Homo sapiens: one gene and its partners. The protein of the gene in region 2 purifies or fractionates together with the protein of the main gene of each other region. This does not show direct contact. Each region holds a gene or a part of one and is shown on either strand. Other genes may lie near its edges.

Region 1 (4,105 bases), on a different chromosome or scaffold from region 2:
GCCAATTTTACTTTCCTAAATCTATTAGGTGCTGTTTTACCTCTAGGCCCTTATGCTTGCTGCTTCCTCTCTGGAAAAACTCTTTGCTCACTTTTTTTTGTTGTTGTTGTTTTTTGAAACAAGGTCTCACTTTGTTACCCAGGCTGGAGTGCAGTGGCGCAATCTCAGCTTACTACAGCCTCAACCTCCTGGGTTCCAGCGATCCTCCTGCCTCAGCCTCCCAAGTAGCTGGGACTATAGGCGTGTGCCACCACACCTGGCTAATTTTTGTATTTTGTGTACAGACGGGGTTTTGCCATGTTGCCCAGGCTGGTCTTGAACTCCTGAGCTCAAGCGATCTGCCCGCCTCAGCCTCCCAAAGTGCTAGGATTACAGGCATGAGCCAGCCACCACGCCTGGCCTTTCGCTCACTCTTTACCTTGCCATCTGTTACTTATTCTTCAGGTCTTAAATCAGACATCACTTGTTCTGGGAAGTCTTTCTGGTTACCCTTTGGCAAATCTCCATTTCGTGCCTCATCTATTAATGTGTCCCCAGAGCACCATGTACTGCCTTTAACTTTCCTGTCATCCTGTTTGCCATGCTGCACTGTAATTCCTTACACTGTGATCCCTATGAAGACTGGGACTTGGTGGTTTTGCTTTTTTGTATCCTCAGCATCCAGCACAGTAACTAACTCAAAGTGGATACTCAAATGTTGAGAATTTGGTAGAAAAGATGTTTGCTTTAAGAACTTAGGAAAAAGCAAAGAAAACCATATGGCCTATTGGGGGTTAATCTTAATTACATCCTCCTCCTAAGATGTCATCTCTTGTTCATGCTTTAAGAGTCCAATTATGCTTTTGCAGCTATCGTTCTAATGGGTAATACACATGCTGTTGTGCTATGTAGCTAGAATAGAGATCTTTTTATTTCTTATGTACTTCTATCAGTTTGACTTGAAAGAAACAGGTATATTGGGAAGGGGAAGAGGGAGAAGAGACTGTATCCGTAAGTAATATGGTGACATTGGCAGTACTGAACGTGCTTATACATAGATAGAAGATAGAAGTAAAAGTGATGTTGCTTATAACCACAGTAAGTTTTATATCTTTTATTCTACAGTTATTTGTTTCATTACATCTGCCAAGACAGGATTGTATATCTTTGTATCACTGATGATGTAAGTAACTTGAAGACATATTGCTATTTAACTATGTGTACTGTTAATACAGCCAGTTCTTAATTATCTATACCAGGGGTCCCCAACCCCCAGGCTGCAGACCGGTACAGGTCTGTGGCTTGTTAGGAACCAGGCCACATAGCAGGAGGTGAGTGGCCTATGAGCATTACCACCTGAGTTCTGCCTCCTGTCAGATCAGCAGCAGCATTAGATTCTCATATGAGTGTGAACCCTGTTGTGAACTCTGCATCCGAGGGATCTAAATTGCATGCTCCTTAGGAGAATCTAATGCCTGATGATCTGAGGTGGAACAGTTTAATCCCGAAACCATTCACCCTCCCCCAGTCCTTGGAAAAATTGTCTTCTACAAAACCGGTCCCTGGTGCCAAAAAGGTTGGGGACTGCTGATCTGTACCTATAGTGGGCAAACGTGATGCGAACTTTACATAGCTGGAATTGTTAATATTTTGCATTTGTCATATAGAGCAGCAAATGTTAAGAAAACTTGATACTGGGGTATGTGCAAATCAACTCAATTTTGGTAGAGTTTTAGCTTAGCCTCTTGCAACTTCTATATTTATTCTATTTTGTAGTGAGAATTGATGTTCATAATTATAATTCTTTGATATCAAAACCTCTCAAAAATTGTTTACGTGGAATGTTAAATTAGATAGCATCATTTCTTCTATCAGTAGTTAATGAATCCTTTAATGTATGTGAACTTTGGAAAAACAAAATTACAATACATTATGATCAGCTATATAAACCTGTAGTTTACATTGGTTAGGTATGACTGTTTGTCGGCTCTCAGCCCAAAATTCTCAGTAACTTAATGATGTCATTAAGGTCCTTTCTCTTCTCTGCTTATCTCCGTGTCTCCTTCTTCCCAGACAGGTTGCCATTATGGTTTCGTAGAGCTACATACTTATTTATTCATGTCCGGAGTAGAGGGACTGTGTCTTCTTGAGTGTCTTATTGTAGGAATGAGGAAGCTTTTCCCAGCTGCATGCCCTCCCCTCCCCCTGCTTTCAAAGTGAACTTCCTTTCATGTCTTATTGGCTGCATGCTCATTTCTAAACTGCCTACTGGCAAAGAGACTTGGAATTGGCATGGTTGCCATAGATCAGGGTTCCTAATCTTTATTGTATCACAGACTCGTCACTTGTGGGACACTCCCAGAATGTTTTTGTTTTCTTTTTTTAATTTTCCTTTTCCAGAATGCTTTTAAATGTATAAAACACACACAATTCTAACAAAGCCAATTATATTGAAATATATATATATATAGTATTCAAAATATTTTAAAAACTTGATGTAGTAATATATATGCTTCTTTATGAACTCATTAACAAGATCTAGTCATAGGTCTAATAACTAATAGTCTTGATGTGATGGGTGTTGACAGTATTTTGAGATATCTGTAACTGTGATGGTATACAAAAAAAGATTTCTGTTGGTGACAGTTACAGGTACTGTTTAATACTACCCCGATTATGAATATACAACCTATATTCACAATTGAAATATAAGTTAACGATTGATAAAAATAATGATGTGATTTTCTTTTTTTCTATCCAAGTTCAAAGGCCCCTTGAATTTGGACCATTGACCCCAATTTAAGAACCCTTGGCTTAGACTAAGCATCTTGGGTGAAAGGGAAATGACTGTCAACCATAGTGATCATCACAATGATTTTTATCTCTGGCTTCACAATATTTTCCAAAAGTACGAAAAAATCTAGCTATATGTGAAATGACTGATGTGAAACAGCTTGGAATAGAAGGAAAATACTAATGAAATCTGGGATAGTTAGAGTCGAGCCTCATATTTCTTGAGCTATAATTTGATACACACATATACATGTATACATAAACACACATACACACATTCATTTTTTTCCTCTAAGGTATTCTTACAGAGAACACACATACTTTTTGGCTGGCTGGGATTAGACATGAGTATGTCACTTGATCTTTTCAAATATACCACCACTATTGAAAAAATTCGATTTGAAGTTAATATCAGTAGTAGTATCTGTATGTGTGAAAGACTCTATGATTATTATGGGATTTATTAAACATATTCTTGTGCTGGGCCTTCTAATAGATCTTATGAAATATATGGAGGAAGTAAAATTCAATTCCTGATGTCAAGAAGTTGATAACCTAGGTATCATTATCTTCAGTTGTCAATGACCAGATATATCTGGATTCATTCTCAGCTCTTTCATTTACTAGTTGTTGGACCTTTGGACAAGTTAGTTACTTTTTCAGAGCCTTCCTTTACTTATCTTTAAGATAGGATCAATGCTAGTTCCTCCTCAGATAATCATTGCTCAGTAAATGTTAGCTGTTTTTTATTGTTGTTCTTAATCACTCACATCATCTTTGTTTACTTTCTAAATGTGAGTTCTGTGTTGATCTCTTTTCAGGATTTTGAACGTTCCCGAGCCTTTAATTTTCTGAATGAGATAAAGAAGAGGTTCCAGACTACTTACGGTTCAAGAGCACAGACAGCACTTCCATATGCCATGAATAGCGAGTTCTCAAGTGTCTTAGCTGCACAGCTGGTAAGATCTTTCTCAGGATAAGGTATTTTGATTTATATCTTCTTCATTACCTTCAAACACTATGAATCTAGGGGGCCCTGACCTGCAATATAGTTTTCTGATTGTGTTACTGTAAGCCAACATAATAAAACTTCCCTGATTAAAAAAAAAATGTAAAGGGGCCATTTTAGGGTAGAAAACAGTGATAGTCTTTATTATCTCTATTAATAGTGGTCACAGTGTCTCATGATTGGAAGAGCATTAAAGATCATCTAGTTGAACTACCCATCTGATGCTTAAATGTGTTCAGCATGCCAAATGATCTTTTAAACTATACGTAAACCTTCTACCCTTCCATGAGGGAAATTTAATTTTCTAACAACCCAAATTAATAA
Region 2 (4,105 bases):
ATCAGGAACAGAGATATGCCCCTCAAGGGGACAAAGGAGCAGAAGAACAATTCAGTGAGTGTGGACTCATGCAGAGGGTGCTCAAGGTGCTCCATTATCTGGTTCCTGCCCATTCAAGAGCGTTATCTCCCACCACTCCTCTTGTCCCTCACCTCTTCCCCACCTTATCCCTCACCACTCCCATGGCCCCTCATCTCTCCCCTTGTTCCTCACCTCTCCTGGACATACACCTCACCCTCTAAATATATTCAATTAGGCCAGCCGCAGTGGCTTACACCTGTATTCCAGTACTTTGGGAGGCCGAGGCAGGCAGACTGCTTGAACTAGGAGTTTGAGAACAGCCTGGGCTACATAGCAAAACTCCATTTCAACAAAAAATATAAAAATTAGCCAGGTGTAGTGGCATGCACCCATGGTCCCAGCTAATCGGACGGCTGAGTAGGTAGGAGGATCGCTTGAACCCAGGAGGTTAAGGCTACAGTGAGCCATGATCGCACACTGCAACCAAGCCTGGGCAACAGAGCAAGACCCTGTCTCAAAAACAAAACAACACAACTCTCTTATCTGCAATTCTAAGCCCACCATGCCTAATGTGCCCTAGTCCTGACATATTCCTGGAATGCCCTTCCCACTTCCTTTTTTTCACTCTCTGACAGGTCTCTCAATGTTTAAGACAGTTCAGGCACCACCTATTCTAGGAAGATTCCTTTGGGTCCATATTAAGAACAAGTGGTTCTTGATTGAAGGAGTCACAGCACCCACTGTAAACACCAGCATGAGAGCTCAAATCTGCCACTGTCTTTCTCATCTGAGTAGACTGTAAGCTCTTTCTGAGCAAAGACCACGTATGCTCTCTATATCCTCACAGACACTGAAAATATCAATCATAGACACTTAAGACATGTTTGCTGAATGACTGAACACATGTGACCCACAGTAATCTACAAAGGTATAATAATGACTATTTTTACAAAAAAAGAAATGTGAGGCTGAGAGGTTAAATAACCTGCCCAAGTTTTAAAATGATCAGACTCACAAGCCCATGTCATTATTAAAGGGCATTTTAAAATAACAGACTTGATATAAATGATGACTTCACTGTAATCATATAGCAGTCATCAGCTTACATTTCTGACAAAATTCTGAGGTGCACAAAGATTGATCACTTGCTAACGAACATGTAATAGGCACATTCTTAACCAATATTGCCTTCAGTTTCCTTAGCTATAAACATGAAATTATCGCCTACACTTTGCAGTATTTGAGTGGAGATTAAATGAGAAAACATCCAAATGCCCATTCTAGTTCCTGACACACTGTTGAAATGTATCAATAATGTTAGTTTCTTAATTACTCTAGAGTCTTTTCCTCTTAAATAGGGAGCAAGAGCCCAGGGAATCCCAACTCTTTGACTTATCTCTAAAATTTGATAAACTTACCTAATCATTTACGTTACATAATGAGGGTAATAAAATGTGGAACATGTCTACACAGAGGACTGCATACTAATAGCACCAATTCTCAACAGCAATTTGGAGAACAAAAAAACCAAAAAAACCTCTATATGTGATTAAGTCTGTATAGCACCTACCCTGAGTGGAAAATTTAAAGGTCGGCGGTAAGGCTGAAAGCCAACAGGCCCTCCCTGCTGGAGTATGGCTTGGTGGGCTGCATGAAGGCCTTCTCCCACCACAGGAATAGCGTTGTTATTTCGAGCATGCTGATTATTGTTAACTTGTTGATTTGCACTGTTTTCATTTTCTTCCTGGTCTCCCAATAAATAAGAATGAAGATCCCTGTGCAAAAATTACATCAGTAACAAGTCTCACTTCAGGTCACAATAAAATGGCAGACATGACACTCATTTTCTTCATATTTACTACTAAGGGTAGAAAATGTATAATACAGAATTTGTGCACCACATTATTACCTAATTTTGGTCTAAATGTTTGTACCCACTTTAAATCAAACCTTTCTAATGTTAATGAACTTGTAGGATATCCCATAAATTCAACCTATTTTACGTTTTCTTCAGCCAGTATCTGAGAAGAAATCAGTAACTGAAAGAAAAAAGTACAATGTACAAGATACTTACAAGTACACTTGTAAGTACAAGAGGTAAGTACTTACAAGCACAAGGTGTAAGTACATACTTACAATGTACAATATTGTTAAGGATCTACAGGAGGAAAAGAAAAACTTCTTATCTTCTCTACAGATGACTACTGCAACATGTAGCTACAAGCTATAAATTTGTAAAACCTCCAAGCTATAAATCAGTTAGGTCAGAAATGAGACTGGGGGAGGAAGCAGTTAGAGGACGACAGATGTTCAAGCAAATATAACCAAATCTGTACTTCACCTTTAAGATACCTACAAGATGCCAAACTGAAAAACTTTTAAAGATTCAACTTTTAAATAAATATAGAGTATATAAAGCTTGGGGAAAAAAATGCAACATGTTCACTAGAAGATTGAGAAATCAAATTTGAGAAGAACCCATTTCCCAGGTTATGAGCACTAAATAAAGGTAAGTTAGTTGGTCTAAATAAAGGTAAACTGGTTTGTTTTTAATGCACTAAAAAAAAAAAAGACATTTACTCCATGAAAGCTGGACCAGCAGCAAACTTCTATAAGAGGGCAAAAAGATGTATATATTCTCCATGAAAGGATGGACAATAAGAAAAAAAAATTTCATTTAGAAGTATTATATGCAATTGCAAATATTACTAAATTGTCTCTTATTAAAACTAATTTTTCTTGAGTGGGCCATGGAACATACTTTTTCCAGAAAGGTTATTCCATAGTCACAAATGACATGCATGTCCAAGGAGTCAGCTGCCCATACTCACAGCAAGTATCCGGCGGTCACAGTCCACGCTCGCACCAGCCCCTTCAGCCACTGCCTCGTGTGTCCCTGTTCGAGTAATGCTGGCAAGACAACCTGAAGCAGAAGCAGCTCGAGGGACAGTTCACTCACTGGAGCATCACTGAAAGAGGCAGGATTTATAATGTGAATTGTATTTTGCATATGACTACTATTTAATGGGATTACAACGCAACTTCTTAAGAATCTAATAAACTTACTGTCTTTATTACCTCTCCTTTCATTCTCTCTCCAACTCAGTGAGGCTTTCCCCACAAACTCCACCAAATTGTTTCTGATAAGGGTCACCAAAGACTTTCATTTTGCTAAACTGATGGGTAGGTCTTGGTTCTCTCCTCACTTGCTATATTAGTAGCATGTTACACAAAAGGTCACTCCTTCCTTTGACACCTCACATCCAAACAGCTAGAGAATCCTTTTGACTGTACCTTAACAATATCCTAAAAATTTCTCAAGGCCTCCACTGCTACCTCCCCTTCATCTCTGCCACCCTCACCTCTCACCAGGATCATTGCATTATCCTCCCAGCTGGCTTCCTGTTTCTGACCTAGCCACTCCAACCCAGTTTCCTCTCATCACAGCAGTCAGAATGATCCTCTTTAAACCTAAGTTAGATCACTCCTTTGCTCAAAGCTTTCCAAGAGCTCCTCAATTCACTCAAGCAAAAGCCAAAGTGCTTATGTCGTGTAAGACTCTCTAGGAGGTGGCTCTCCATGACCTTTCTGACTTCAGGGCCAATTCTTTGCCTTCCTCCTCCTACTACAGACAAACTTGCCTCCCTGCAGATCCTCAAACAGACCTGGGTGCCACTGCACCTACTTTCTGCAAGAATATTCTGCCTTCAGGGATCCACGTGGCTCACTCTCTCAACTCCTTCAGGGCTTTCCTCAACTGTCACCCCCTCAGGTCTTTACCAGTCACTATTCCTAAATTGTAACCCCATCCTGCCCACTTTCTATACCCTTACTGGCATTTTTTCTGCCACTTTAAATAATCAGGATATAAGTATTTTCCAATTCTAATTTAATAAAATACAAATTTGAGATTTTACTATGTGTAGAGTAAACCTTTTATTTTTGAACAATCATGTTCCTATGCAAAGCATTAAGATCCAAATAAGAGGCTGGGCGCAGTGGCTCACACCTATAATCCCAGCACTTTGGGCGACCAAAGTGGAAGGATTGCTTGAGGCCAGGAATTCAAGACCAGCCTGGGCAA
Region 3 (4,105 bases), on a different chromosome or scaffold from region 2:
AAAGCCAGGCATGGTGGCATGTGCCTGTAGTCTTTGCTACTCCAGAGGCTGAAGTGGGAGGATCCCTTGAGCCTGGGAGGTCGAGGCTGCAGAGAGCTATGATTGCACCACTGCACTCTGGCCTGGGTGATAGAGCGAGACCCTGTCTCAAAAAATAAATAAATAAAATAAATAAAAATGAAAAAGCTTCTACATATGCATTAGAAGCTTTAATTGACCTCCACTTAATTGACTCACCACATTGAATAATTTTTATTTCCTTTGTAAAATACAGTGTACACTGAATACTTGGTATTAGTTGGTTGATCTCCAGTACTCCAGCGTGCTTGTTTACCTACCAGTACAGTAAATTTTTTTACTACTAAACCTGTATATGTTGGTTGTATTTGTTTTTTTGTTTGTTGGTTGGTTTGTTTGTTTTTGAGATGGAGTTTTGCTCTTGTTGCCCAGGCTGGAGTGCAATGGTGCAATCTCGGCTCACTGCAACCTCTGCCTCCTGGGTTCAAGCAATTCTCCTGCCTTAGCCTCCCGAGTAGCTGGGATTATAGGTGCCCACCACCATGCCTGGCTAATTTTTTTTGTATTTTTAGTAGAGACGGGGTTTTGCCATGTTGGCCAGGCTGGTCTTGAACTCCTGACCTCAGGTGATCCACTTGCCTCAGCCTCCCAGAATGCTGGGATTACAGGCGTGAGCCACCGTGCTAAGCCTGCTTGTATTTGTTTTTAAAAGGTAATTTGTTTAATATGTTGTAACCTGACAATATATGAGTGGGGGAGATTGGAGTTCTTTTTACTGAAAATTTACAAATGAAATAATATGATGTCTGGGATTTGCTTAACATTATACAAGGGGTGAGGGATGGAGGTGGGTTGTGGGTAGTATGGAAGAAACACAATTCAGCACATATGAATAACTGTTGAAGCTGGGTGATGGTTACATTAGATTCATTATGATGAAACAAATTGTTTTGAGAAGAGTTAATGAAAACAAGTTGCAAAAAAAAATACTGTCCGCTTAAATGTGGGTAAGATGACTATACAAGATACGTGGAAAAAATATAAAAATCTAAAAGAGTTTTATTTTATTTTATTTTATTTTATTTTTTGAGATGGAGTCTCGCTCTTTTGCCCAGGCTGGAGTGCAGTGGCGTGATCTCGGCTCACTGTAAGCTCCACCTCCCGGGTTCACGCCATTCTCCTGACTACAGGCGCCCTCCACCACACCTGGCTAATTTTTTTGTATTTTTAGTAGAGACAGGGTTTCACCGTGTTAGCCAGGATGGTCTCGATCTCCTGACCTCGTGATCCGCCCGCCTTGGCCTCCCAGAGTGCTGGGGTTATAGGTGTGAGCCACCGCACCAGCCATCTAAAAGGGTTTTATACTCACATTACTTGTCAAATGTAAAATCAATGGGCCTGGAGTTAGAGAAAAAGGTCTTGGCCTCTTGGCCCCATATAGAAAGTTTGAGGCTGGCATGGTGGCTCATGCTTGTAATCCCAACATTTTAGGGGGCCAAAGCAGGAGGATTGCTTGAAGCCAGTTCAAGACCAGCCTGAGCAACATAGCAAGACCCTGTCTCAAAAAAAAAAAAAAAAAATAGCTGGGTGTGGTGGCACACACCTGTAGTCCCCAGTCACTCAGGAGGCTGAGACAGGAGGATTGCTTGAGGCCAGGAGTTCAAGGTTGCAGTGAGTCATGATCACACCACTGCATTCCAACCTGGGAGACAGAGTGAGATCCTGTCTTTAAATAAAAAAACAAAACAAAACAAAAACAAAAAAAACCCCAGGTCAGGTACAGTGCGTCATGCCTGTAATCCCAGCACTTTGGAAGGCCAAGGCAGGCAGATCTCTTGAGGCCAGGAGTTTGAGACCAGCCTGGGCAACATGGTGAAACCCCATCTCTACAGAAAATTTTTATTATTATTATTATTGAGACGGAATCTCGCTCTGTCGCCCAGGCTGGAGTGCAGTGGCATGATCTCGGCTCACTACAACCTCCGTCTCACAGATTCAAGCGATTCTTCTGCCTCAGCCACCCGAGTAGCTGGGATTACAGGTGCCCACCACCACACCCGGCTAATTTTTGTATTTTTAGTAGAGATGAGGTTTCGCCATGTTGGCCAGGCTGGTCTCAAACTCCTGACCTCAAGTGATCTGCCTGCCTCAGCTTCCCAAAGTGCTGAGACTACAGGCGTGAGCCACCACGCCTAGCCCAAAAAATACAAAAATTTAGTTGGGCATGGTGCCATGTGCCTATGGTTCCAACTACTGGGGAAGCTGAGGTGGGAGGATTGCTTGAGCCCAGTAGGTGGAGGTTGTAGTGAACTATGATCACTCACGTCATTGCATTCCACCCTGGGTGACAGAGTGAGACCTTGTCTCAAAAAAACAAAAACAAAAATTAGCCAGGCATGGTGATGCACAACTGTAGTCCCAGATACTTGGGAGGCTGTGGCAGGAGGATAGCTTGTGCCCGGGAGGCAGAGGTTGCAGCGATCCAAGGTCACTCCACTGCATTCCAGCCTGGGCATCAGAGCAAAACCCTGTCTCAGAAACAAACAAAAAAACAAAAAAGCCCCCCAAAAATAAATAAACCAAAACCACACACACACAAAGTTTGTTGAATGAGTATATATATACCACTGATGAAAGGAAGGTGAAATGTTTGCCATACATATTTTTATGATCGTTTACCTGAAATTAACCTTTTAAATTACATAACCAATTGTTCTAAATCACATTAGATAAAAGGGTTTCTACTGCATAATATCCATAATATATAAAGAGCTCCTAAAGATCAATAAGAGAAAGGTACCCACTACAAAAAGCAAAAAGTGGCAGAAGATTATACATGGGCATTTCCCAGGAAAAGAAGTACTGGTGAATAAAAAAGAAAAGATGTTCAAATTGACTCTGGTTATTAGGGAAATGTAAACCGTTTTTCACCAGACAGATTGGCAAGAACTTAATATCCACTTTTAACAAATAGGCATTTGCATACACTGTTAATGAGAGTTCACATGTATAACTCTTTGCTGAAGAATACCAAAATCATCTCATTTTTAAATGTGCATACATTTTGACCCAATAGTTTTATTAGAAAACAATTCTAGGGAAATATTACATGTGTATAAAACTATGTATAAGGTTTCGCTGCAGTGAAACTGTTTGTAACTGTGAAAATTTGGCAGTATCCTAAATATCCATCAGTAGGGAATGATTTAAATAATGGTAAGTTATACTGTGGAATACCATTGAGTTATTAAATAAAAAAAGAAGAAAAGCCTCTTGGTTAGACATATATATACACTGACATAGGAGTTCCAAAGTATGCTGTTAAGCAGGGGAAGAGAGGGGGAGGGAGTCAAAGAACAGTTGTATACCATAATTCCACTTATCTAAAAATAAACCCTTATCATGTGTATGGGTAATACAAAACAATCTGATTGATACACATCAAGAGTAATTATCCCTAGAGGAAAAGAGAGTGGTGTTAGAGGAGGGCAGTATAGTTTTACTTTTTCTCTGTACAATTCTATATTATATATTATAATTTACAATTACAATTTTGATAGTAGGTATGCAGATTACTATTATAGCAAAATACAATTACTATTTTGATAGTAGGTATGCAGATTACTAATATTAAACATTTGCACACTGGAGGATGCTTATAATAGGATTCCTTCATTCTACAACAACACTCTACTGTAAATGTAATTAATGCCTTGTACTGAACACTCAGGTTTTTAAAAAAATGATGTTTTCTGCTATCGATGAAGTATTGGTATTTTCTAAATTTTTGACACCAAAAATATAAGTATAAAAAAGAATAAAAACAGTAATTTCATACCCAGAAACATCCATTGTCAACTTTTTGGTATATATGCTTGTGCTTATATGTATGGACACTTGCATGCACATGTGCACACATATATCACCTTTCTACAAAAATGGGTTTTTACTGTACATACTGATTTGTAACTTGCTTGTTTAACTCGACACTATATTGTGAGCATCTTGCAGCATCAGTAACTCCGAGTAAGTGAAAAAGACATCTGGTGGGAAAAGGCCAACATCGTGCCATGTAAATACAGTGTTT
Region 4 (4,105 bases), on a different chromosome or scaffold from region 2:
ATGTACCTTAAGTACCTAAAACAGTGCCTGAAATATAGCAGGTACTCAGTAAACATCTGATGAATTAACGTGTTTGGATTGTTCTGTGTTGTCACAGAAAGAGGGTTATTTATAACCATATAATAGTAAAAAAAGACAGTCAAAATAATAGGCATTACATTTAATCTGTAGATCACTTTGGGTAGTATGGACATTTTAACAATATTAATTATTCCAATCCAGGAACATAGGATATATTTCCTTTTTTTTTTTTTTGTCATCTTCAATTTCTTTCATCAATGTTTTGTAGTTTTTAGTCTTTCACCTCCTTGGTTAAATTTATCCCTAAGTTTTTTTTGTTTTTTTTTTTTAAGTTTTTTTCTTGTACTATTGTAGATGAAATTTTCTTGATTTCTTTTTTGGATAGTTTGTTGTTAGTGTATATTGTATTTTTATATGTTGATTTTATATTCTGCAACTTTTTTGAATTTATTAGTTTTAACATTTTTGGTGGAGTCTTTAAAGATTAAGGATTTTTATATATAAGCTCATGTCACCTGCAGACAGACAATTTTACCTCTTTCTTTCTGGTTTGGATGCTTTTTGTTTTTATTTCTTTTTCTTACTTAATTGCTCCAGCTAGGACTTCCATTACTATAATGAACAGAAGTGGTGAGAATGGGCATCTTTGTCTTATTCCTGATCTTAGAGGAAAAGGTTTAGCTTTTGACTGTTTGAGTATGATGTTAGCTGTGGGCTTGTCACATATAGCCTTTATTATGTTGAGGTATATCCCTTTTATACCTAATTTATTGAGAGTTTTTATCATGAATGGGTTTATTATGTTGAGGTATATCCCTTTTATACCTAATTTATTGAGAGTTTTTATCATGAATGGGTGTTGAAATTTGTTAAGTGCTTTTTCTGGATTTATCAAGATGATATGATTTCTATCCTTCATTCTATTAATGTGGCATATCTCATTTATTGATTTGCATATGTTGAACCATCCTTGCATTCCACAGATAGATCCTACTTGATCATGGTATATAATCTGTTTAATATGCTGTTGAATTCAGTTTGTTAGTATTTTGTTGAGAATTTTTGCATCTATGTTCATCAGAGATATTGACCTGTAATTTTGTTTTCTTCTAGTGTCCTTGTCTGGTTTTGGTAGCAGGGTAATACCACCCTTATAAAATGAGTTTGGAAGTGTTCCATTCTCTTCAATTTTTGGAAGAGTTTGAGAAGGATCGGTCTTAATTCTTCTTTGAAGAAAGTTTGCTAGAATTCACCATTGAATCCATCAGGTCCTAGGCTTTTCTTGTTGGGAGGTTTTTGATTACTGATTGAGCCTCCTTACTCATATTAGTATGTTCAGATTTTCTATTTCTTCTTCATGATACAGTCTTGGTAAGCTGTATATGTCTAGAAATTCATCCATTTTTTTCTAGATTATCCAATTTGTTGATGTATAGTTGTTCATAGTAGTCTCTTAGGATCCTTTGTTTTTTCTGTAGTATAAGTTATAATGTCTCCTCTTACATTTCTGATTTTACTTGAGTCTTTTCTTTTTTTCTTATTCTAATTAAAAGTTTGTCACTTTTTTATCTTGTCAAAAAAAACAACTCTAAGTTTCATTGATCTTTCCTGTTATTTTTCTAACTTCTATTTCAGTTATTTCTGCTCTGTTATTATTTCCTCCCTTCTGCTAACTTTGGGCTTAGTTTGTTCTTTTTCTAGTTCCTTGAGGTATAAAGTTAAGATTTTTGAGATTTTTCTTTTTTCTTAATGTAGACATTTATCACCATAAACTTTCTTCTTAGAACTGCTTTTGCTGCATCCCTTAAGTTTTAATATGTTGTGTTTCCCTTTTCATTTGTCTCAAGTTTTTTTTATTTCCCTTTGACTCATTGGTTGTTCAAGAATATGTTGTTCAATTTCCACATTCATGTGAATTTTCCAATTTTCCTCCCTTTACTGATTCTAGTTTCATAATGTTGTAGTTGAAAAGAACTTGAGGCCAGGCACACTGGCTCACGCCTATAATCCTTGCACTTTGGGAGGCTGAGGTGGGTGGATCACGAGGTCAGGAGTTCAAGACCAGCCTGGCCGACTTGGTCTCTACTAAAAATACAAAAAAAAAATAGCTGGGCGTGGCAGCGGGTGCCTTTAATCCCAGCTACTCAGGAGGCTGAGGCAGAGAATTGTTTGAACCCGGGAGGCGGAGCTTGCAGTGAGCCAAGATCACGCCACTGCACTCCAGCCCAGGTGACAGAGTGAGACTCCGTCTCAAAAAAAAAAGAAAGGATACTTGAGGTGATTTCAGTCTTACATTTGTTAAGGCTTGTTTTGTGGCCTAACATATGCACTATCCTGGAGAATATTCTCTGTGCACTTGAAAAGAATGTATATTCTGCTGCTATTGGATAGAATGTTCTGTATATGTCTGTTAGGTCCATTTGTATGGTGTTGTTCAAGTTTGCTCTTTCCTTACTGGTTTTCTGTCTGGATGATCTATCATTGAAAGTAAGTATTGAAGTCCCTTACTATTATTGTATTGTCGTCTACCTCTTTCTTCAGTTCTGTTAATGTTTGCTTTATACATTTAGGTGCTCTAATGTTGAGTGCATTTATATTTACCAATGTTATATGCTCTTGATGAATTGACACCTTTATCATTGTGTGGTAACTTTCTTTATCCCTTGTGATAGTTTTTTACTTAAAGTCTATTTTGTCTGATATAAATATAGCCACCCCCGGCTGGACATGGTGGCTCACGCCTGTAATCCCAGCTCTTTGGGAGACCAAGGCGGGCGGATCACGAGGTCAGGAAATCAAGACCGTCCTCACTAACATGGTGAAACCCTGTCTCTACTAAAAATACAAAAAATTAGCCGGGTGTGGTGGCAGGCGCCTGTAGTCCCAGCTACTTGGGAGGCTGAGGCAGGAGAATGGCATGAACCCAGGAGGCAGAGCTTGCAGTGAGCTGAGATGGCACCACCGCACTCCAGCCTGGGTGGCAGAGCGACACTCCGTCTCAAAAATAAATAAATAAATATAGCCACCCCTGCTCTCTTTTGGCTACCATTTGAGTGGAATATCTTTTTTTTATCTCTACTTTTAGCCTATGTGTCCTCTTACACACATAGGCCTTTACAGATGGCTTCAGCAGGGGAAGCCCTTACCAGGTAGCTCATCCAGAGATTCTTGGGGGGGCAACTGACAGGTTCTGCAGGTAGGTGGGCCTGGTGCCTTGGTCTTTGGGGGTAGCTTGGAGGCTGGGTCCTCTGCGGCAGGCCTGGCAGTGGAATCCACTAGGGTGGACCTTTTAAGTGGGTCTTCAGGTGAAACACCTGGAGCCCGGTAAGTAGATCTGCAGGAGCCAGCCTGGTGCAGGGGTGGGCCCTACCCTGAGCCTGCAGGGGCTGGCCTGATGCAGGGGTCCACTTGGCTGGGTCTGTGAGAGTGGACCTGGAGCCTTTAAGTTTCTTAAAGACAAGACTGGATCTTATTTCGAACCACCATCACATCTTGTACGGTGTCTGAAGTATATCAGGTGCTTATCAAGTTTATTTGTGTAGAGTCAGCCTTTAAACATTGTTCAGAGGCTTTGATGTAATGCAAAAATAAAATAAACGGAGACAGGTTACCCATGAGGAAATATTTGCTTCCAGATATTGTAGTACATTTCAGAATCAAGAGTATGCCACTGAGCTACAACTCAACAACAAACAAATAGCCTGAATAAAAAATAGGCAAAGAACTTGTATAGACATTTCTCCAAACACAATATAGAAGTGACTAACAAGCATATAAAAAGAGGCTCAGCATCACTAATCATTAGGAAAATGCAAGTCAAAACCACAATGAGGTATCTCCTCACACAGATTAGGGTGGCTACTATTTTAAAAAGTGTTGGCAAGGATATGGAGAAATTGGAGCCCTGGTGCACTTTTGGTGAAAATGTAAAATGGTGCAGCTGCTACAGAAAACAGCATAGTAGTTCCTAAAAAAAATTAAAAATAGGATTATCATATCCAGCAATTCCACTTCTGGATTATACATCCAAAAGAGTTGAAAGCAGGTTCTCAAAAAGATATTTGTACAACCATGTACATAGCAA
Region 5 (4,105 bases), about 170 Mb from region 2:
TTTCTTGGGATTGTACAGTGAAGCACTTTATATCCCAGCCACCCTAAATAATACATGCCATCTGAATCCAGGCAGTACGCTTGCTGCATAAATGTAGCTTCCAGACAAGTTTCCTCGTCTCCTCTACCATGGATGCATTCTGGAGTGACAACTCCAGTTGCCTCCAAGTACAGCCGGTTAACAGGCCCATGAAGGTGCACTCCTCAGTGACCTTTTGGTGTATTCATGACCATCCTGTTTTGGAATACCACGCAATAGTTGCCTCACCTCTTGTTGTTGGTTGATTTGAGCATCGCTGAAACTCTTGCCACTCCGTTTTCCTTCTCAGGCTGCTGTACAGGACAGATTGAATGAGCAAGAGGGCGTACCTAGTGTTTTCAACCCACCTCCATCACGACCCCTGCAGGTTAATACAGCTGACCACAGGATCTACAGCTATGTTGTCTCAAGACCTCAACCAAGGGCAAGTTATTTCATAGCTGGGATTTCCCCCTTTTTTATTTATAAGTATATCCACTTGGTTATATTGATCTCCCTGTGACAGGAGCAAAACAAATATTTAGAATGTAAACCTGTTAGTTAGACTTGGCCCGTTGGGTGTATTATTTTGCCTTGATTCCTCAAGGAATTGTTACAGAAACTACTCATTTTTTTTTTCTTTTCTTTGCCAGTTATTTGGAGAGTGTTTTCTGCCTCTTAAGTTACAATTTGTTTACTCAAGTTCTTTGTTGCTTCAGTTTACTTAATCTTAAACCAGTTTTGAGGAAGTATATGGAATCTTTGTAGGAGCTTTGGCCACGTCTTTGAAATTAGCCTTGAAGGGCTAGTAGCAAGGAGGTGGTTCACTTAAATTTGACAGACATTTAAGAGTACTCCAATAACCTGGTATCTTGCTACTAGGGATCCAGACATGAATAAAGAGCCAGTCTTCCCATTTCAAATTCAATTTCTCACAGTCTATTGAAGGAAGTCAGATGTGTACACTGATAATGAATTCTAAAGAACTGCTTGGACTTTCTTTTTCTTACCCCTGGGGTTATACTCACCTCTTATACTTTTATACTTGCATTTAGAATCCTAAGAAAACACTCCCTTTAACATTGCAGCAGTTAGAATTTACTCCATCATCAAGCCTTTTTGTGGAGTACTTGATTTTTGTTGTGTTTTGTTCTGTTTGAGACAGGGTCTCACTCTGTCGCCCAGCCTGGAGTGCAGTGGCATGATCTTGGCTCGCTGCAGCCTAGACCTCCCGGGCTCAAGCAGTCCTCCACCTCAGCCTCCTAAGTAGCTGGGACTACAGGTGTGCGCCACCATCCTGGTTAATTTTTGTATTTTTTGTAGAGATGGGGTCTTGCTATGTTGCCCAGGCTGGTCTTGAACTCCTGAGCTCAAGTTATCTGCCCACCTCAGCCTCCCAAAGTGCTGGAATTACAGGCTTGAGGCACTGTGCCTGGCCTACTTGATGTTTTAAAACATGTTTCTAAGTAGTGCTCTGTGGTTTTCTGAAGTACAGTAGCAGATTCCCATGTCAGCCATGGGGCTCCAGAGCTTCCTGGCCACAGACACAGAAAGTGTCTCAGGTTAACACAATGTGACAACTATGAAATGCTTTATAAACTATAGAGCCCTGGATGTATGCTAGTTTTAATAATTAATAACAGCAATAATAATTAGCATTATTACTAAGATAAGCAGCTATATGGGGATTTGTCATTGTGGTTAATATAATTATTTAATGTTTATATACCAATGTCCAAGGTTAGTAATAGTGATTATCTTTCTTGCTATTTCTATATACATTATTTTAGGTTTTTATGTTTGTTTGTTTTGTTTTGGGACAGAATCTCCCTCTGTTGCCCAGGCTGGAGTGCAGTGGTGTGATCTCAGCTCACTGCAACCTCAGCTTCCCAGGTTCAAGCGATTCTCCTGCCTCAGCCTCCTGAGTAGCTGGGATTACAGGCGCCCACCACCGCGTCTGGCTAATTTTTGTATTTTTAGTAGAGACAGGGTTTCACCATGTTGGCCAGGCTGGTCTCAAACTCCTGACCTCAAGTGATCTGCCTGCCTTGGCTTCCCAAATTGCTGGGAGTACAAGTGTGAGCCACCACACCCAGCTAATTTTTGTATTTTTAGTAGAGACAGGGTTTTACCATGTTGACCAGGCTGGTCTCGAACTCCTGACCCCAGGTGATCCATCCGCCTCAGCCTCCCAAAGTGTTGGGATTACAGGCGTGAGCCACCAAGCCTGGCTTATTTCTGTATACCATATTTTGATGTGTAAATCTAAAAAGGAAAGAATGAGTGTGTATCATTTGGGGAACATTAATTTGCAATTGAATTTGACAAGTCTATAAGTAGCTGCCAAAAATAAGTATTAAGGCAGTTTTGGTTTTTATTTGTTTGTTTGTTTTTTTGAGACAGAATCTTGCTCTGCCCCCAGGCTGGAGTTCAGTGGCGCGATCTCAGCTCACTGCAACCTCCGCCTCCTGGGTTTAAGCAATTTTCCTGCCTCAGCCTCCCTGAGTAGCTGGGACTACAGGTGCATGCCACCATGCCTGGCTAATTTTTGTATTTTTAGTAGAGATGGGATTTCACCGTGTTGGCCAGGCTGGTCTCAAACTCCTGACCTCAGGTGATCTGCCCCACTCAGCCTCCCAAAGTGCTGGGATTACAGGCAGGAGATACAGCTCTGGACCTTAAAGCAGATTTAATACAAAAATTCTGCAAAAAAAAATGATAGTAAGATGAAATAAGACCAAAGATGGTGGCACTTAGAAGGATGAGGTGGCCAGGAAGAAGGAACTGTACTTTAGAGGAACAAATCACATGGAAGGACCAAAAAGAGTGAGAAAATCTGACCTAGCCATTTGATAAAATATTAGGGATTGAGAGAATTGTCTCTAACTTTGTTTTTGGACTTTCAGGGGCTGCTTGGATGGGGTTATTACTTGATAATGCTTCCATTCCGGTTTACCTATTACACGATACTTGATATATTTAGGTATGTACCTTTGGATTTATGTATTAGTAGAATAGTAAGACTTTGGAGCTGAAATTTAGGCCAAAATAAGCTTTATGCTCTATCAATGTTGACTTACCAATTTGTCATGAGATGGAATACACTTCCCGAACTGTCTTTTAATACAACATACAAGTATTTTAAATTGTTGAAGCATTGGCAGGCATTGTGAAATGGAATTGTTTTTAAATTAGTCTTACCTTTTGTTTGCAAAAACCAGTCTGACTATATTTATTTGTCTCCCCCTCCCCCCCCCACCATATTTGTCACCTCTACACTTCCTAGTTGATGTCCACACCCTTTCCTTTCTAACCACTATCATCTCCTAGCTTCACACTCCTTAGAACTTTCTTCCTCAACTACTTCTCCTCCACCTGACTACTCACAATCCCAACAAATTCTCTTGCTCTGAGATTACCCAGTTTGCCCTTGATTCCTCCCACAATAGTTGGACCTCCCTAGACACTCCTGTTACACCTTTTCTTTCTTTTTCTTTCTTTTTTTGAAACAGAGTCTTGCTCTGTCGCTGTCACCCAGGCTAGAGTGCAGTGCCACCATCTCGACTCACTGCAACCTTCACCTCCTGGGTTCAAGCGATTCTCATACCTCAGCCTCCCAGATAGCTGGGATTACAAGCATGCGCCACCACGCCTGGCTAATTTTTGTATTTTTAGTAGAGACAGTAGAGATGGAGTCTCATTTTGTTGGCCAGGCTGATCTTGAGCTCCCGGCCTCAAGTGATCCACCTGCCTTGGCCTCCCGAAGTGCTGGGATTGCTGGCATGAGCCACCATGCCTGGCAGCTTCGGTACCTTTTCACTTTGCTCTGGCAGCCCCTAGGTTGCAAACACTGGAACCCTTTTATGTATATACCCACTTGCTTCATACCTTCACCTTTCTTCTAGCTTCCTTCATGTACCATTAAAAGAGCTCATCATTGGAAGCTACAGAGGGTCCAAGGCCAGAAAATGAGTGGGGCTCAACTGGCCGGGCTCTGTGGCTCACGCCTGTAATCCCAGCACTTTGGGAGGCTGAGGTGGGCGGATCACAACGTCAGGAGATCAAGACCATCCTGGCTAATACGGTG

Evidence for each region.
Region 1: the proteins of MARCHF6 (region 2) and VAMP7 purify together in Homo sapiens (affinity purification with mass spectrometry, with the first as the bait; one large-scale study listed by BioGRID). This does not show direct contact.
Region 3: the proteins of MARCHF6 (region 2) and ACSL4 purify together in Homo sapiens (affinity purification with western blotting, with the first as the bait; one study listed by BioGRID). This does not show direct contact.
Region 4: the proteins of MARCHF6 (region 2) and SORT1 purify together in Homo sapiens (affinity purification with mass spectrometry, with the first as the bait; one large-scale study listed by BioGRID). This does not show direct contact.
Region 5: the proteins of MARCHF6 (region 2) and FAF2 purify together in Homo sapiens (affinity purification with western blotting, with the first as the bait; one study listed by BioGRID). This does not show direct contact.

The regions. Positions count from the first base shown.
Region 1 is NC_000023.11:155,894,519-155,898,623, forward strand, and holds part of VAMP7 (vesicle-associated membrane protein 7), read left to right. Parts: intron 1-1,104; coding exon 1,105-1,162; intron 1,163-3,593; coding exon 3,594-3,731; intron 3,732-4,105. UniProt on the Homo sapiens protein: Involved in the targeting and/or fusion of transport vesicles to their target membrane during transport of proteins from the early endosome to the lysosome. Required for heterotypic fusion of late endosomes with lysosomes and homotypic lysosomal fusion.
Region 2 is NC_000005.10:10,409,024-10,413,128, reverse strand, and holds part of MARCHF6 (E3 ubiquitin-protein ligase MARCHF6), read right to left. Parts: intron 2,991-4,105; coding exon 2,853-2,990; intron 1,797-2,852; coding exon 1,592-1,796; intron 1-1,591. UniProt on the Homo sapiens protein: Endoplasmic reticulum membrane-associated E3 ubiquitin ligase that plays a critical role in mitigating endoplasmic reticulum stress, the regulation of cholesterol and lipid homeostasis, and ferroptosis.
Region 3 is NC_000023.11:109,722,741-109,726,845, reverse strand, and holds part of ACSL4 (long-chain-fatty-acid--CoA ligase 4), read left to right. Parts: intron 1-4,105. UniProt on the Homo sapiens protein: Catalyzes the conversion of long-chain fatty acids to their active form acyl-CoA for both synthesis of cellular lipids, and degradation via beta-oxidation. Preferentially activates arachidonate and eicosapentaenoate as substrates.
Region 4 is NC_000001.11:109,328,188-109,332,292, reverse strand, and holds part of SORT1 (sortilin isoform 1 preproprotein), read left to right. Parts: intron 1-4,105.
Region 5 is NC_000005.10:176,486,027-176,490,131, forward strand, and holds part of FAF2 (FAS-associated factor 2), read left to right. Parts: intron 1-328; coding exon 329-463; intron 464-2,924; coding exon 2,925-3,001; intron 3,002-4,105. UniProt on the Homo sapiens protein: Plays an important role in endoplasmic reticulum-associated degradation (ERAD) that mediates ubiquitin-dependent degradation of misfolded endoplasmic reticulum proteins.